Linked DNA regions of Homo sapiens: region 2 is linked to region 1. The links come from fine-mapping of genetic effects on gene expression. A gene starts in region 1. The other region holds a variant in brackets. All regions are shown on one strand. Distances are between the middles of the regions.

Region 1 (2,813 bases):
CAAATACCAAATGTTCTCACTTACAAGTGGAAGCTGAATAATGTGTACACATGGACAAAGAGTGTGGAATGACAAACATTGGAGACTCCAAACAGGTAGAAGGATGAGACGAAGATGAGTGATGAAAAATTACTTAATGGATACAATGTACATTATTCAGGCGATGGATACATTAAAAGCCCAGACTTGACCACTATGCAAATATATCCATATAACAAAACTGCACTTGACTCCTTAAATTTATGCAAACAAACAAACAAAAAAAACCCGAGACCGACCTACTCAATCTGATCCTCAGACCATTCTCTGGCCCAGTCCAAGCCCTCCATCCGTCTGGTATCGCCAACCCAATCCCCTTCCTCAGACTCCACACCTTTATGTCCACCTGTCTGTGTGACATATCCATCTTGAGACATTTGAGAATCACCATGTCCAAAATCCAACCTGTGATCTTCTCCCGGAAATCTGCTCTTTATGCTGACTTCCCCAACTCCATTCTTCCAAACGTTCAAACAGAAAACAAAAAACAAAACAAACACTTGAAACGGTTCTTCACTGCCTTTGTTCAGACATAACTGAAGCACCAGGAAAACCTACGGGCCCTATCTTTCAGGCCTATGAAGAATCTCATCACATCTCCCTCTACTGTCACTGGTCCAGCCCCAACCATAATTCTCCTGGGTCTACTGCAGTGGCCTCAGGGCCTTTTCGCGTCTCCCTGTGTCCATTCCTAACCTGGTTTTCCTAACTTGAAACTTCGAACTCTGGACCTGCCCCCTCCAACTGTCCCTCCCTTGACAACCTTCCATGGTTACTGGCTGCTCAGGTTGCCATTCCAAGCGAGAATTCACAAAACCCTCTCTTTCCCGCAGAAACAACACACACCCCTGACGCCCCAACACAGCCCACTCGGCAGCGCCTCCATGCTCTGAACCTGAGGTCCCTAACGGGAGCTCTGAGGCTGCATCAAATCGGCTGATACGGGGACCCCACACAGGAACGCCCCTCTCTTCGGGACAAGGGGCCTGACCTGCAGGGCCCCTTCAGGGGGCTTCAGCACTGGGAGGACCGGTCGGGCGGGGGAGCCTGGGACGGGACACCCACCTCAGTCAGGTTCATCAGCAAGGCCTCCGCCAGCCCAGCCAGGGAAGAGCGGGGCGGGAGCGACAAAGGCAAGACAAGGACGCCACTGTCCCCAGCGCTTGTCAGTTGACTCACTCCCGCCTCTCCGTGGTGGGAACCGAGCCGCTTCTCGCGCTTTTCCGTTCCGTCACTTCGGTGACGTCAGACAGAGCCATAGGCCGAAGTTGGTGAAACACCACACAGAACCAAAACGACCACCACCAGGAGGACGGCGGAAGTCCCGCCCTCCGACGGTGCGCACGCACGCAAACGTCCCCTTCTAAGCCTTTATTGGGTAAGTCGTGCCGCCGAGAGCTGCAGTGTCTTCTGGGTTATGAAGTTTCGACACCGCTTCCGGACTTGTCTTAGAGCGTTGATCAGTCCTTATATGGCAGATAAAGGCCCAGTGGCACTGTCAGGGGAGCTGGGAAACGGAGTCCCCGACTCCAAAGACAGGAGGGGGCTTGGCTTGCTCTTAAAGGCAACATACGGTATTTTTTTGGATTGTAGTATAGGATATTTACAGAAATGTTAGCAACTTATTACTTAAGACTCTATTAAGCACAGCTAATTCCCAATAACTACAGGTCCAAAGAGACACCCCATACCATAAAGGCAGTCTGCCTCTACTCATGCCTGCCAGCCATATTATTGCTTTTCAAATACACATACAGTTACGCTTTGGCGTCTGTTTAGTAAGCTTCAATATGTTTGGTCCAGAAGAAGAAAGAAAGACTACGCAGTTAGGGCTATGGACTGGAATTTGTAGGAAGGATGACAGGAGACGCTGAAGTAGGTTGAAAGGGTGAAGCTATGCCTCTGGATCAAAGAGAATACATCTTACCTGACTGTAGAGTCAGCGATTGTGTTCCTACGAAGGGTGCAACGCTTTTATTCTAATAATACTTACTACTTCATATCTGAGATATTTTCCATTTATTTTAAGAATCACAATCCTATCTGAAAATGAGAGTGACGACCAAAATGAGTGATTGAGGCATAAGTCACAAATCATGGAGGATTACTGGACCAGCCTAAGGGCACATCCAGAAAAATGTAAGTCACAGAAGCATCTGTGGCTGGTTTTTCCAAAGAGGTTCTTAGGAGGTTTAGTATTTATTATACATTTTCCTTAAAAAGGAAGAGGGGTTGGCAGTGAGACAAATGATTACAGACATGTGAAACTTTAGTTAGTGCCCAGTAAATCTACATTTTACATAAGATAGAGTAAACACGTGAGGGGAAAAGGGAATAAAGAAGATGTCTCAGAGAAGGATGAAGGAATGAATAATCTCATCTTCTCTCTGTTCTGTACCTTGGAAGATAAGCTAGTAGTCTTCTGAAAAGGTTGATTTCTATTTAGCCCTTAGGGAAGAAAACCTAATGATTGTAGTGTGGTAGGGGATATAATGAGGTGTGTCTGATTTCCCGTTCCTCTATAGTGGTGAATTCAGCTTCCAAAGTTATTCTAGGGTTCTCATGGTCAAGAGGGCATCCATTCAGTCAGTTAGGGGGTGCTTAGAATTTTATTTTTATTTCTCAAGAGCAGCTGATACATGCCATTTCTGGACAACATTGTCTACCGTTTTCATAGTTGAAGCATATGCACATCTTATCCTCAAAAAAGGTGTGGAATTCCATGATGTTATCTTCTTCCTCAGAAGTGATTTAAAATTTCACCTGTGTTTACA
Region 2 (2,813 bases), 38 kb after region 1:
CCCAGAACTAAAAACCTGTGTGTTTTCCTGAGGCCTCAACTAAGATGACAACTGAGACCTCTTAACCTAAACATGACCAAAGCCTAACTCCTGATATAACCACTAAAAATCATACCTGCTGCCAACTTCTCTATCTCAGTTGATGGCATTTTCATAATTTTACCAGCTACAGCAAAAACAAACCAACCTTAGGGTCATCCACGACTCTCCTCTCTTTCACCTTTCGCATCAAAAAATCCAATCACCCTACTTTAAAAAACAGAAAATTTACCAACTTCTCTCACCTCCACAGCCACACCTCTAGACCAGACACCATCAACACTACTGCAGTAGCTGCTCCCTCATGCTCACAGTCTGTTCTCAACCTGAAAGCCAGAGAGAGCATGTTAAAATCTGAGTCAGATCATCTCCCTCCTCTGCTCCAAATCTCCCACGACTTTTACCACACTCAAGACACCTCGGCCAGCCATTCCTGCCTAACTCCTTCCTCTGATACCTGTTTCCAACAAAGGTAATTAAGACCTGAGATTCCCTGAGCGCTCCAAACTCAATCCTACAAGCATTTGAGCGTACCTGTTCCTAGGTCTGATATACTTTTGCAGTACTCATCCCATTGGTCGCCAGGTGGGGACTTCTCCACATAACTCCATACAACTCATGGCCTGGATTCAGGACACTAAACTAGAAATGACCTCCATTCACTGCCCCCTGTCTCAAGTGAAGACAGTCATGTGAAGAATCCCAGGATATCATCACTATGTCTCATCAGAGAATCTGGTCAGCCTTCCTTATAAAATACATACAAAACCCAAAACCCATACATTCTCTAACCTCTGCTGCCACCACTCTGGCCCAGACCATCAACGCTCACCTGGACTATTTCAGTAGACTTCATCTTGATCTCCCCGTCTACCCTATAATCCCTAGTCTACCCACTCTGCAGCCAGAGGGAGCCTTTTAAGAACTGCGTCAGAGGACCTCCCTTCTCTGTACCAAACCTTGCATGACTCCCAGCACCCTCAGAAGAGAGGACCAGCTCCTCGGGCGGCCATTCCAGGCCTACCTCTGACCCCCTAGTCCCTGTTCTCACCAGGCACAGAGAGTT[C/T]CCGGAACTCCCCAAACTCATTCTCCTCTCCATGCATGCATTTGTACGAACTGCCCCTGCGCCTTCGAGTCCGTTCCACACCTTATGCCACTGATGAGGGGAGCGGAACCCCTCCACATAATGCGACGGAGTGAGCACCCTGAAGTGCGCGATGAGAGCGAACATCCCAGGACACACCAACCAGGCCGGGGTGCGCTTGAGGGATGCCCCCACTCACCTGAACCCGGTCCATCAGCACCGCCGCTGCCATGAGAAGCGGATGAACAGTCTGTGCCCTGTGGGCTCAGCCGAAACCCCACGCCTCCACCGCGCTGGACGCCCTCGGGCTGAGTGTAGCACTCCAAGTCTCAATCTACCCGGTGTAAAAACGCTCACAAGACTAAGGCGGCTGCTTCTGGGGGAGACAAGGACAAGAGGACGTGTGTGGAGGCCTCGGTAAGAGCCCAGCCCCGGCAGACACCTCCGCGAGAGGCCGCCCGTCCCACGACAGGGGTCATGGATTGTAACAAAAGCGCGAAGGAAGGTCCTGCAGTCTTCACTGTCTTTCTTTGCTAGGTTCCACGAGAGCCGCGTAGAAAGCCGACCCGATCTCTAGAACTCAGCCTTCACAACCAGAATGCACGGACCGGGCATAGGAAAAATACGTCACGACGGCGACGCCAGAAGTCTCGCCCCTGCAGCCCAGAGCAGCAGGAAACGCCCAGTTTCTGGGCTGTCATTGGCTGCACGCCGGCTAACAATGAGCTGGGCACAGATTTCTGGGTAACGTAGTTTGTACCCTGCATCCAACCAGGCAACGAGCGCCTTTCGGGTTCTCCCGGATGTCTGCCAAGAGGCGTCGTGCAGGGAGGGGGAGAAAAGACTGGGAAAACGATATCTCGGAGGCCACAGCTGCTTTTAAAGGGTATGCACCCTGATTTCCATGGCCACCTGGGACAATGCCACGCCACTGAAGTCGCCAGCAAGGGACCCATTCTTCAATCCTGCTTCTGAGGCCCTGGGAAACCTGCTTCACCTCTCTCAGATTTGGGGATTGAAACGTATTAATAAATTGAACGTTGTCTGTATTTCGTTTGTGGGCCTTTTTGTAAAACATTGAATGTCCTTCTAATTTTTCTAACATATAAAGAAAAGAGATGTAATTAGCTACCTTTCTGCTGGCTGTACAGGAAGCATGGTGCCCGTATCTGCTTCTGGTGAGGCCACAGGGAACTTTTATTCATGGCGAAAAGTGAAGGAGGAACTTACATGTAACATGACGAAAACATGAGCCTCTTCTAATTCATTGCTTCCCAATTTGATATGTAGTTTTACAGCATCAGCTTCACTATGAACTTAAAAAACCTGTGAATTCTTGGACCCAACCTATACCTTCTGATAAACTCTGGGGATGGGACCCTAGCTGAAGTTCAAGAACTGGAGGTCTTTTAAAGTCATTAGCCAAAAACAAAACAAAACAAAAACAAACAAAAAAAAATCAGTAAGATGAAAAACACTACAACCAACCTCATTAGGAATATGGGAAGTGAGGTAAAAAGTACTTAACACCAGGCCTGGCACATCGTGCTAAATACATACAAGCTGTTATCAGTCTTCCTCAACACAAGGTTCTCACATACACTGCTTTAGGAAGATAAATCAAAGATCCACCTTTTCAGGATCAGTGTGATTTTGAAAAAAAAAGAAAAAAGTACAATTATTCCCTCAC

The links. PIP is the estimated chance that this variant, and not a neighbour inherited with it, causes the effect.
Region 2: its variant is fine-mapped to the expression of ZNF548 in lung (GTEx, PIP above 0.99).

The regions. Positions count from the first base shown.
Region 1 is chr19:57,388,406-57,391,218 of GRCh38, reverse strand. It overlaps ZNF548 (zinc finger protein 548), which reads right to left and starts at 1,365. Exons shown (of 4, transcript NM_001172773.2): 1 at 1,105-1,365. The coding sequence starts at 1,119. RefSeq lists enhancers at 1,108-1,587, 1,728-1,807.
Region 2 is chr19:57,350,207-57,353,019 of GRCh38, reverse strand. ZNF304 (zinc finger protein 304) reads right to left here and starts at 1,749. Exons shown (of 3, transcript NM_020657.4): 1 at 1,323-1,749. The coding sequence starts at 1,355. RefSeq lists enhancers at 1,447-1,516, 855-1,713, 1,667-1,756, 1,714-2,573. The variant C/T (reference allele first, on the strand shown) is at 1,106.